Homo sapiens: one gene and its partners. The protein of the gene in region 3 purifies or fractionates together with the protein of the main gene of each other region. This does not show direct contact. Each region holds a gene or a part of one and is shown on either strand. Other genes may lie near its edges. The genes, in order: TUBGCP3, SLC39A11 and SIGLEC12.

What was found.
Region 1: the proteins of SIGLEC12 (region 3) and TUBGCP3 purify together in Homo sapiens (affinity purification with mass spectrometry; 2 studies listed by BioGRID and IntAct, with this or other methods). This does not show direct contact.
Region 2: the proteins of SIGLEC12 (region 3) and SLC39A11 purify together in Homo sapiens (affinity purification with mass spectrometry; 2 studies listed by BioGRID and IntAct, with this or other methods). This does not show direct contact.

What each region holds. Positions count from the first base shown.
Region 1 is NC_000013.11:112,553,633-112,557,285, forward strand, and holds part of TUBGCP3 (gamma-tubulin complex component 3), read right to left. Parts: intron 2,593-3,653; coding exon 2,420-2,592; intron 1,374-2,419; coding exon 1,255-1,373; intron 551-1,254; coding exon 425-550; intron 1-424. UniProt on the Homo sapiens protein: Component of the gamma-tubulin ring complex (gTuRC) which mediates microtubule nucleation.
Region 2 is NC_000017.11:72,645,363-72,648,755, forward strand, and holds the end of SLC39A11 (zinc transporter ZIP11), read right to left. Parts: intron 2,301-3,393; coding exon 2,222-2,300; 3' UTR 587-2,221; downstream 1-586. UniProt on the Homo sapiens protein: Zinc importer that regulates cytosolic zinc concentrations either via zinc influx from the extracellular compartment or efflux from intracellular organelles such as Golgi apparatus. May transport copper ions as well.
Region 3 is NC_000019.10:51,491,736-51,495,388, reverse strand, and holds part of SIGLEC12 (sialic acid-binding Ig-like lectin 12 isoform a precursor), read left to right. Parts: intron 1-3,559; coding exon 3,560-3,653. UniProt on the Homo sapiens protein: Putative adhesion molecule that mediates sialic-acid dependent binding to cells. The sialic acid recognition site may be masked by cis interactions with sialic acids on the same cell surface.

The DNA of each region.
Region 1 (3,653 bases), on a different chromosome or scaffold from region 3:
GTTCCCAAATCCTGCCTCACCGTGCTGCCTGGGGAATCACGCAGCTGGGAGTGTCCCCTGTTGGCAGGCCCCGTCCCAGCAGGGCCCCTCCTCAACCTTCTGGAGGAGGCAGCAGCAGCTGGGCAGGGCCCCCTTCGAGCGTTTGGAATCGGGCAATGCCAGCTCCCCATGGCCAGCTCTGTCTCACCATTTTCTCTGTATTTTACAGTCCTCCAGCAGTTCCTGAGCCAACCTGCTGTATTCAGTGTCCTCATCAGCACCTACTGTGGTTTCTACTGTCTTGAGTGGACCCTGAAAGTTGACTCTCAAAGCTGCTTTACTTGGAAAGAGCCTTAGAAGGAGCTATTTCACAGTAAGATTTCAACTAGAGTAAGCGTTTCCCAAAGTGCGCAGCATCCCAGCATCCTAGGAACCATGAACGCACCTGCCCGACGAGTCCGAATGAGCGGTCCAGGCTCCTCTGGTCCGTGTATCTTCTGATTTTATTATGCAACCATCCCAACTCAGAAAGCCTGACTGCTGTGTCTCTCAAAGACCTACTTAGATTTGCCTAAAAAGTAAATACATCAAATGTTAAACATTAAAAAGCAATACTAGAGCTTTAATTAGTATTTTTCTCAAGCACTTCTACTTTTAATACTATAATCCTTAGGCTTCAAGACATAAAAGTTAAAACTAAGATCCCATCACTAAAGGGAAGGAAAGCACATTAAGTGACAGCATGATGGAAAGCACCTCAAAGGGCATGGTGAGCTCATTTCACACCACCCTGCAGTTGGCCTGCGGTGTGGCAGAGAAGGTCTGTGATCTCAGCCACGCTGTGAAAGGGCTAAGAGCCACAGTGTGACCCACACCACAAGAAATGGGCATGGTAAAGGCAGATTATGGAAAAAGGAAACAAAAGTGGGTGAAGACCCCTGACCTGGAATCCTGCATCAATGCCGAAGGTGCCAAGGGACCTCTGTCCCCTGGGTGCCTCAGCCATCACACAGCAGGATGCAGAAATCAGCTATGGGGCAGCCCCATCAGTAGACGTGAGGAAAGGAGGCACACATTAATCACAAAGGGTCCCCATAACAAAACTGAACGAGCCACAATGGACAGAAATAGAAACCAGAATTCCACAGTGCAATTTCACCTCACAACCGATTCGCAAAACCCCAGTACCACCTTATCAATCAACAGCCACTATCTGGACTTCATGACATGTTTTTTCTTTCTGAATATTTTAACTTAGATTTTATGTTACTGTACCTTTCCTTCTACTTTGTAACAATTTTCAGTGTTGTTCATTTTGATGTTTTTGCCATCTATGCCCTGAAAGACGTACAAAATGTCCCTTACCAGAGCTGCTTCTGTAATTTCCATAGTACCTGCAAAATCATTTTTTAAAGACAGTAATTACTAGACAATATTTTAACAGACAATAGATATTATGGTGCAATTAGCTTCAGATTAGATATTTGCCACCCCGATGAAATTTACTAACTCAATAAATAAGCTCAAGATGAAAAAGAGTATGAGATTAGAAAGAAACAAGGCGAGTCTCAGTCTAGAGGTTGGCCTGCTGTGCCATGAACGCACAGCTGTCAAACACGACATGAATCTGCAGCTGTGGACAGAGGCTGGACGCGGGAGCCACACACAGGGACAGGCGGAGTGGGGCAGATGGTGGAGACTACTGCGGGGGCTAATACTGTGCCAGGATGTCCTCCAGCTCTCAGATGCTCCTCACCTTTGCATTCTACGCAAGGACAGGTACAGGTAACATCCAGAGCCATTTCGTAATCAGCAGATTACGAGCCAACAGGGAAACCCAATCCTCTGTTTTCAGGACACTCATGTTTCAAATGCTGCTAACTGTAGTGTTCTCAATAAAGAAACTCAAGCTTCCTTTTGGAATCTAGCAGGGCTTTAAAACCCTCCATGAGGTATTCATCTCACCATTCAGTAATTCCTCAATGACTCTCTTCGACGTGCCAGGCACTGTGCTGAGCACTGGCACCATAAATGAAAAGACATAGCCCCTCTGTGGCCTTAAGACTTTGGTAGAAGAAGGTGACTTTTACTGGGGGCCTAACCCAGCCTTAAAGACTTTCCCAGGGAAACGGCAGGATGAAAACAGACAGGGAGAATGTGATGAGGAACAGCAAAGACGAGAGATGTGGAGGGAGGAGGCCACATGGAAAAGCAGCCAAAAAGCAGACTGTGCTGGGAGGAAAAAGCCCAGGTGGCCTGGGGTGAAAAGCCAAACTCCCCAAGGCGCCGCAGACCACCAGGGACTCTGGACTTCATCATAAGAACAAGAAGAAACCACTAAAAGGTTTGAGGTGGGGCTCCTGGGCTGTACTTTAAAATAAGGAGAGGCTGAATTCCAAGTGTTCACAGAAAAGCTGTATTAACATAGATCCTTACTCACCACCCGTATCCCCTTCTCTCCTGGACCTTGTCATGTTGCGAGACACAGCACTGGGGACACCTTTTGAGGTAGTGGCTTGTGAAGAAGGCTGATTTGCAGTTAAAGTCCATGCGAGTCGTGACCCCAACTGCTGTCGAAGGCAATCTCCTACTCCTGGAGCTTGATTAGACTGTCTAAAAAAAGAAACATGTATTATCTTCTAATAGGCTATTCGCTGAAGAGACAAAAGTGTCCCTAGAAATTTCTCTTGTATTACTATCGTGAATTACATAAATTTATAAATCTGGTATAGCTGATACCATGACTTTACCCTAACCGAATATATCAATAACAGACAGTCCCAAGTCCCTTGAACTTGGTCAAGCCTCCTTGCGACCCTTGGCCTAGCATTCGGACCCAACACAGCAGTGGAAAAATCATCTTACTGCTACCTTACAATATATATTTCTTACCATTAATATCAAAATCTATTTGGCTTTTCTTTATAAACATATAACATACCTTACCCACCCCATAACCACTTTGAAATTCTCTACTTATTTTAACTTCAAAATCCACAACTCTCGTTCACTCCCCATGTACTGAGCAGAGGAATCGAGTCACTGTGACACTGCCCCAGGCGCCTGGCCTCACCTGTCTTCAGCCTTCAGAGTGCTCACTATGAAAAGAAACTGCAATTTTCAATTAACTGCTAAAGTATACAAACGTATAAAATCTAAGGCAAATGCATATTCAAGGTCAAGATGGCTTGTCAGCAATTTTGAGACTATGTCAAAGTTGTTTTTTGAAAAATGTAAGAACCTCATAGCTGATTTCTAATAGCGTCAGTTTTGACAGGTGCAACAAAAATATCACTTCCTGGGACTACAAAACACAAAAATGAGAACCTCAGCTGCTCTACAGTTTCCAGGTGCCAGAGCTTGGATTTAGTACTGGTGCAATACTGGGGGGGTTTATCCATAATCCACTCGTGAAGTAAGGAGAACAGGAAAGAACTGAAACAGTTCTTATTTTATTCCATTTTCATCAGGAGAGAAGTCAACAACATTCACTAAAACTATGTCTCTGGGCATAGTTCTAAATTTAAGAGGATGATTCTAAAAGACTTTCAGTTCAAAGTTCTCTATACAGATTTTTAATAGGATAATAATTCAAATTCTGAGGTATAAATGAGAATGTCAATTGATTCTTTTAGCTGGAACTTAAATTCTAGATTAAATGTGTCAAGTTCTGT
Region 2 (3,393 bases), on a different chromosome or scaffold from region 3:
ATGAACTCATTCCCAAATTTGGAAAATCCACTATTTTGCGAGTCTTGGGAAGGGGCAAGATCAGCTAGTTCATGGGCACAGGATCTAAGCTCTGGCAGCTGGATGTTCTGATCTAGAACTTCGAATGTGGAGCCAGGACACAAAGAATCCAGCTCAGTGTAGAGTTTGTTCTTGTGGCGGCAGTGGTGGTGGCATCAAGGTACAGCAGTTTCATTAGTGGTGTCCAGGATCTAGGGACCAGCTCTGGGGACCATGGCATCTAAACCAAGCTGTTCTCCAGGTGTGATTGGGTCATGGCCCCAGACCTCTGGCTTTCTTGGATCCAACCCATTTTCAAGCCCGATTCTCCGAAAGAGCCTGTGAATTCCCTAACAGGCTTCCACTCATTTCCTTTTCTGTTTAAGTAAGCTGCTGTTGGATGCTGTTGTTGCAACCAAGAATCTGACTAGCCCTTCCCATCTGAGCTCTTTCCTTTGCCTCTCCTAGTGTTGGATCAGGGAGGTGTTAGTTCCAACTTTAGTTAGCTCTTTTATGATCATCCTTGCAAAGAAGCAGCTTTGAGAAGTACTGAACGTAACACAGGTCATCCACAACATCCCCTTTTTATTGATATTAATCACAGTTATGAGGTCTTGTCCATCAGAAAGCACAATTTGCATTATGTAGAACTACATACAAAGACATAAAAATAAAACATACATACACCAACCACCACACCAGTTAATCTCAACCAATCAAACCTCTGAATGTGTCTTCAATTTTGATCATCAGTGCTTCGGAAGAACGTACATAGACCCAGCCCAAGGTTGGCCTTTGGGGTCTGATAGCATTCACAGAGCAGGAGATTCACCCTTGGAAGCAATTGAATGTGTAAACTCTGAGAGCAGACACTGACAATGCAATGCCTGCATACCTGACTCCTGGGCTGCCTTCCTTCTCAGCAGAGCCCACTGAAAGTCTCACGTGTGCCTTTAACCAATGAGGATGGCAGGCCTTATCTGTGTTTGAAGTGGACAGGTCATTGCTACCCCTGTTGGAGAAGCTATGTAAGAAGGAGTAGGCTGGCTTCTGGTCTAGTTCGACTCATTCTTTATAGGGACATTTCAGAATGATGAGTTGGCTAAAATTTACTTTAAAGGGGAAATGTAAAATTACCTCTTCTTTTCCTATCCCCTTCTTCCTTTCCCATCCTGAGCCCTCTGGCAAGGCCTGTTGCAGCTCAAGAGTTTTTGTCAGATTATAAGTTACCAAATGGTCAACAGGGAAGGACCCACAGCAGATTCCAAAACTCTTTCATTCACTTGAGTTAACTGAAATGGCTCCTTCTTTGAGTAATTGAAGAGTTTGAGTTCTAGCAGTTTGCTGGTGTCTCCAAGTCTCTTAGAAACATGATGGCTATAAACTTATCAAAATAAATGCCTAAGAAATTTGGAAAGCGCGACAAATGGCCTTGCTCCTGGAATCCATTGACAGCAGAGGCCTCCGAACAAACCCACACTCTGTCTGTCTCTTCTTTCCACAGGGCTCACTGTGAGTTCACAGTTGTCCTCATCCCCTTTCCTTCAATAATGTCAATCTTTGCCTTTAAAAAAAAAAAAAAAAAAAGCCAGACTAGCCAATTTCCTTCCCTTTTTCTGTGTCCCCCTCCCATGTAGTATCTCCTTAGGGGGAGGTAAAGGAAGACATGCTCCTCTCTGGGCTGGCTCGGCCTTGGAAGGTAGCTTGCTATCTTTATGATGCTCCAGTTCCAACATTCTAGATGGGGAGAGGCTCAGCAGTGATGGAGCAGGAGGGGCGGATGAGAGGTGTGCTGGCCACTCTGCCCTGAGTCACTAGGCCACCAAAATGCTTAGGAGACGTCTTTTGGTAGCTCGCTTCTATAGGTGACCTTGAGGAGTTGGGAGGCAGATAGAAGGTCCCGAAGTGGAGATTTCCCTGATCTGAAGTTCCTTGATAATCCCACTGAAGAGAGAGTCCATTCAGTGGCCAAAACAAAGAATCTGTATTTCCATGACACCTTAAAATTCCCCATTAAATCAAAAATCTCCCTCAAAGCAAAGTAAAAATGGTTCTATTATAATCAGAGTCAATCAGGATAATGAGATGAAGAAGAGAGGAAGGAAAAAAGTTTTAATGTGAAGAAAGAAGCTTGTTGTCCCATAGAAGCCAACCACTGCTGTTTCTTCGTATGGCCTTTCCCGGGGTCCGAAGCGTCTCAGCCCTAGCCCAGGCCAACGTCCAGTGACATCATCACTACAAATCCCAGGATGGAGGCCCAGGATGCCAGTTTCCCATTACCACTGGAAGAGAAGGACAGGAAGAAAAGTAAGACCTTAATGATCCCTGAGGCCACGGCTAGGCTGAAGGCATCCTCTGCAATGTCCAATTCCAAGAGAAAGCACACTACCATTAATAATGGTAACATTTACTGGGGCTTACTATGTGCCAGGCAAACTAATGAACCATGGAACCCCAAACAACAACCTCATGAGGTCAGTATCATAATTATCCTCATTTTACTGGTGGGGAAACTGAGGCAAAGAGAAGTTACTTGCCCAAGGTCACCTATGATCGTTCTGTGGTCCATGTGTGAGTAATGAAGAGGGGTGATTATTTCTTAAAGATATTACTTAATCTGGCCTTTTAAACTAGCCTCAGAGTTATTCTTCTATAAAAACCAAAATAGGCTGGGAGCAGTGGCTCAAGCCTGTAATCCCAGCACTTTGAGAGGCCGAGGCAGGCAGATCACCTGAGGTCAGGAGTTTGAGACCAGCCTGGCTAACATGGCGAAACCCCGTCTCTACTATAAATACAAAAATTAGCTGGGCGTAGTGGTGGTTGCCTGTAGTCCCAGCTACTTGGGAGGCTGAGGCATGAGAATCACTTGAACCTGGGGGGCGGAGGTTGCAGTGAGCCGAGATCACACCACTGCACTCCAGCCTGGGTGACAGAGCGAGACTCTGCCATTAAAAAAAAAAAAAAAAAGAAAAACAAAACAAAACAAAACAACAACAAAATGGAACAAAGCAAACCCTTACTCCCACCTTCTGACACCTGGCCTATAGCTAGCCAGTGAAGACATGCATGTATCACCTTCACTGACATTTTAGAGCTCACCTCTCCCTTCATTCCAGCCCGAGAATCGAGAGACAGGATGAGAGAGAATATACAAAAACGATAGTCTACTGCATCAAGGGACGGGGGGCAGGTGTGTATGCCACTGCCTGGTGTCACCTCATTTCTTGACCCACATGCCCTTAGCTTCTTTTCTTTTAGTTTCAGAGAGCACAGTTGAGGAGGCAGTGGGGATGATCTTGGGAAGGGGCAGAGAGGGGGAGGGAATAAGGAAAGGAAAGGCAAATGAAGAAAGAGCATATCCCAAGGCTGGGGTCC
Region 3 (3,653 bases):
CCATCCATCCATCCATCCATCCACCCACCCGTCTGTCCATCCATCCATCCATCCATCCATCCATCCATCCATCCACCCACCCGTCCGTCCGTCCATCCATCCATCCATCCATCCATCCATCCATCCACCCACCCACCCGTCCATCCATCCATCCATCCATCCATCCATCCACCCACCCACCCGTCCGTCCATCCATCCATCCATCCATCCATCCATCCACCCACCCACCCGTCCATCCATCCATCCACCCATCCATCCATCCAGCCATCTACGGTGGAAAATAACACATAACATAAAATTTACCACCTCAACTTTATTAAGTTTATGGTTGTGCTAGATCTCTAGAACCCTTTTATCTTGCAAAACTGAAACTCCACATTCGTTGAACAATAACTCCGCCCTTTCCCTCCCATCCTCTTCATCCTCCTGCAGCCACTGGAAATCACCAATTTTACTTTATTTTCCTATGAATTTGACTATTCTAGATACCTCATATAAGTGAAATCATACAGTATTGCTCATCTTGTGACTGGACGATTTACTTAACAAATATCCTCAAGGTTCACCCACATTGTAAGGTGTGACAAGATTTCCTTCTTTTTAAAGGGTAATTAATATTGCATTGTGTGTATGTTTACCGCATTTTCTTTATCCATTTATCTGTTGATGTACACTTGGGTTGCTTCCACCTCTTGGTTATTGTGAATAATGCTGCCGTGAGCATGGGCATGCAAATATCTTTTCAATATCCTGCTTTTAATTCTTTTGGGTGTATATCCACAAGTAGGGTTTCTGGACTCTAAGATTATTCTGTTTTTTAATATCTTAAGGAACTGCCATACTGTTTTCCACAGTGGCTACACTATTTTACATTCCCACAAATGTCACACAAGGGTTCCCATTTCTCCACATCCTCACCAACGCTTGTTACTTTTTGGTTTTCGTTTGTTTTTGACAGTGGCCATCCTAACGCGTGTGAGGTGATATCTCATTAAGGCTTTGATTTGCATTTTCTAATAATTAGTGATGTTTTCATATGCTTCTTTTGATTTGTATATCACCTTTAGAGAAAGTCTATCAGAGTTTAAGCCTATTTTTGAAACTGTGTTGTTTCTCTGCTGTTGAGTTCTAAGAATTTTTTTAATATATTCTGGATATTAAAACTTTTTTCAGATGTATGGCTTGAAAATATTTTCTACCATTCTGTAGGATGACTTGTGTTTCTGTTAGTGATGTTTGAGCACAGGAATGAAGGAGGCTCAGATCTGACACTGACTGTGAGATTGAAGAGCACTCCAGACAGAGGGAAGAACAGGGTGAGGCTCAGGCACAGGAGGGACCAGTGAGAGGATCCACAAGGACGTCTGTGTGATTAGACAGAGGGAAGCAAGGCCAAGAACAGGAAATGACTTTGGAGAAGTTGAGCCTGTGTGTGAATCGTGTCTGGCTGCACAGGGCACTGTGAGCATTTGGAGAGTTTTGTGCAAGAGACCATGATTAACTTTTATTTTCATGGGATCCCTCTGGCTGTTGTGTGCAGAAGAGACTGTGTGTGGTAGAGGAAAGACAGAGCAGAGAAGATAGAGAGGAGGCTGGTGAACATCTCAGGCAGGAAGTGGTGCTGGCTGGAACCAAGATGGCAGTGGTGGTGGACATGGCTGTCTTATGGGTAAATTCTGAAGTTAGACTTATGAGAATTGCCAATAGATTGGGTGTACAATGTGAATGACAGAGAGGGAGCAAGAAGACTTCCAGATTTTTGCCCCAATCCATGGGTAGAATGGAGGGGTCAGTCATTGAGGCAGAAAAGATTGTGCAAAAAAAGAGATCTGGGGGAAAAAAGGAGGAGTTCAGATAGAATAGGTTGCATTTTGTGTGCCTTTCGACAAGATGTGTGGGTTTGAAGTATACTATTGGATCAAGGACTATAGTCAGCAGAGGGGAGAGGGCTGGGTGTAAATTTGGAAGTCGTCAGTTTATTGATGGCATGAAGACAACACAGTGGATGAGATTGCAAAGCAAAAGTAAAGAAGAGCTCAGGGCTGCTCTGATATTTAGGGTCAGGGAGATGTGGAGCATCTAGCAAAAGGGCTGCCAAGAAGGTAAGATGGAGCCAGAAAGCACGATGTCCTGTAGTTAAGTCAAGAAGGGCTTCTGTGTAGGGAAGGTGAGCAGCTGGGTCCTCTGCTGCTGTGAAGTCCAAGAAGGAGAAGACTGCAAGACGGACATTTGGACTCAGCCAAGCAGTGGTCATGGTGACCTTGATAACAGCAGTGCTGAGATGTGGTGTGTGTGTGAATGTTAATTTGAGTAATCAAGACAGAATGGGGGAGTGAAATCACAAACAGTTCCATGGAGCATCTGCTGTGCAGGGGAGTAGCAGGGAAGTTCAGAGATGAAGGAGAAGCCTCCCAGGCAGCCTCTGTCACTCTCCACCGTGTGAGTCTATATTAGTTTCCTGTGGCTGCTGTGACAAATTGCCACACATTTCCTGGCTTCAAACAACAAACATGGATTAACTTAAAGTTCTGAAGGTCACAAGCCCAAAATGGGTGTCACTGGGCTAAAATCAAGGCATTGGCAGGCAGGGCCAGTTCCTTCTGGAAGATCCAGGGGAGGATGCGCTTTCTCACCTTTTCCAGCTTCTAGAGGCACCTGCATTCCTTGGCTCAGGACCCTCCCTCTGTCTGCAAGTCAAGCAGCCTGGCATCTTCCAATCTATCTATGCCCTCCTCCTTTCACTACTTGTAAGGACCCCTGTGATTCCACTGGGCCCACCCAAGTAATCCAGGATAATTTCCCCATCTCGATATCCTTAACCTAATTCCATCTGTAAAGCCCCTTTAGCCATGTAAGGTAACAGATCAACAGGTTCCAGGGGATTAGGGCATGGACATTTTGGAGGGGTCATTATTCTTCCTATAAGAGGGATATAATTTATTTTATTGACTTGTCTTCCCCACACCACCAAACTGTGAGCTTCTCAAGGGCAGGTGCCACGTCTGAATCAAGGCCCTGTAATTCTCTCTCACTTGCCCTCTTCCTACCCATCTTATCATAATTCACACATAGATATTCATTTGTTTGGCAGTCATTTATTGCCACCTCCTTCAGTTAAAGAGTGAGATGCAGGGGGTCAGAGCCCATGCCTACCGTGTCCACCACAGTCCATCCAGCACCCAGCCCAGGAACTCACACACAGGAGGCCTCAGCAGGACTCCAGGCTTTGGGGTCAGAAGGAACTGACTGGATTGGGTCCCGGTATAAGAGGGAGTTTGCGCAGGGTACTTAACCATTTCTACCTCAGTTTTCAAATTTATAAAATGGAGACAATAATAATATCTTACTATGGAATTGTTGTTGGAAGTTAATGAGATTAGTAAACACCACATAAGGTGATAATTGAGTATTAGACATTAGAGGAACGTATTAAAGAGATTTCAGCAAAGTGCACATGGGATGAATGGAGGAAGGAACTCCTGGGCCTCCTTCCTGGATGCTCTCTGGTGCATGCTGGCCCCACTGCTCTGCACTGACTCCCTTCTCTTCCTCCATTCAGGGACCCCTGATTGAATCCCCGGCAGATGACAGCCCCCCACACCATGCTCCGCCAGCCCTGGCCACCCCCTCCCCAGAGGAAGGAGAGATCCAGT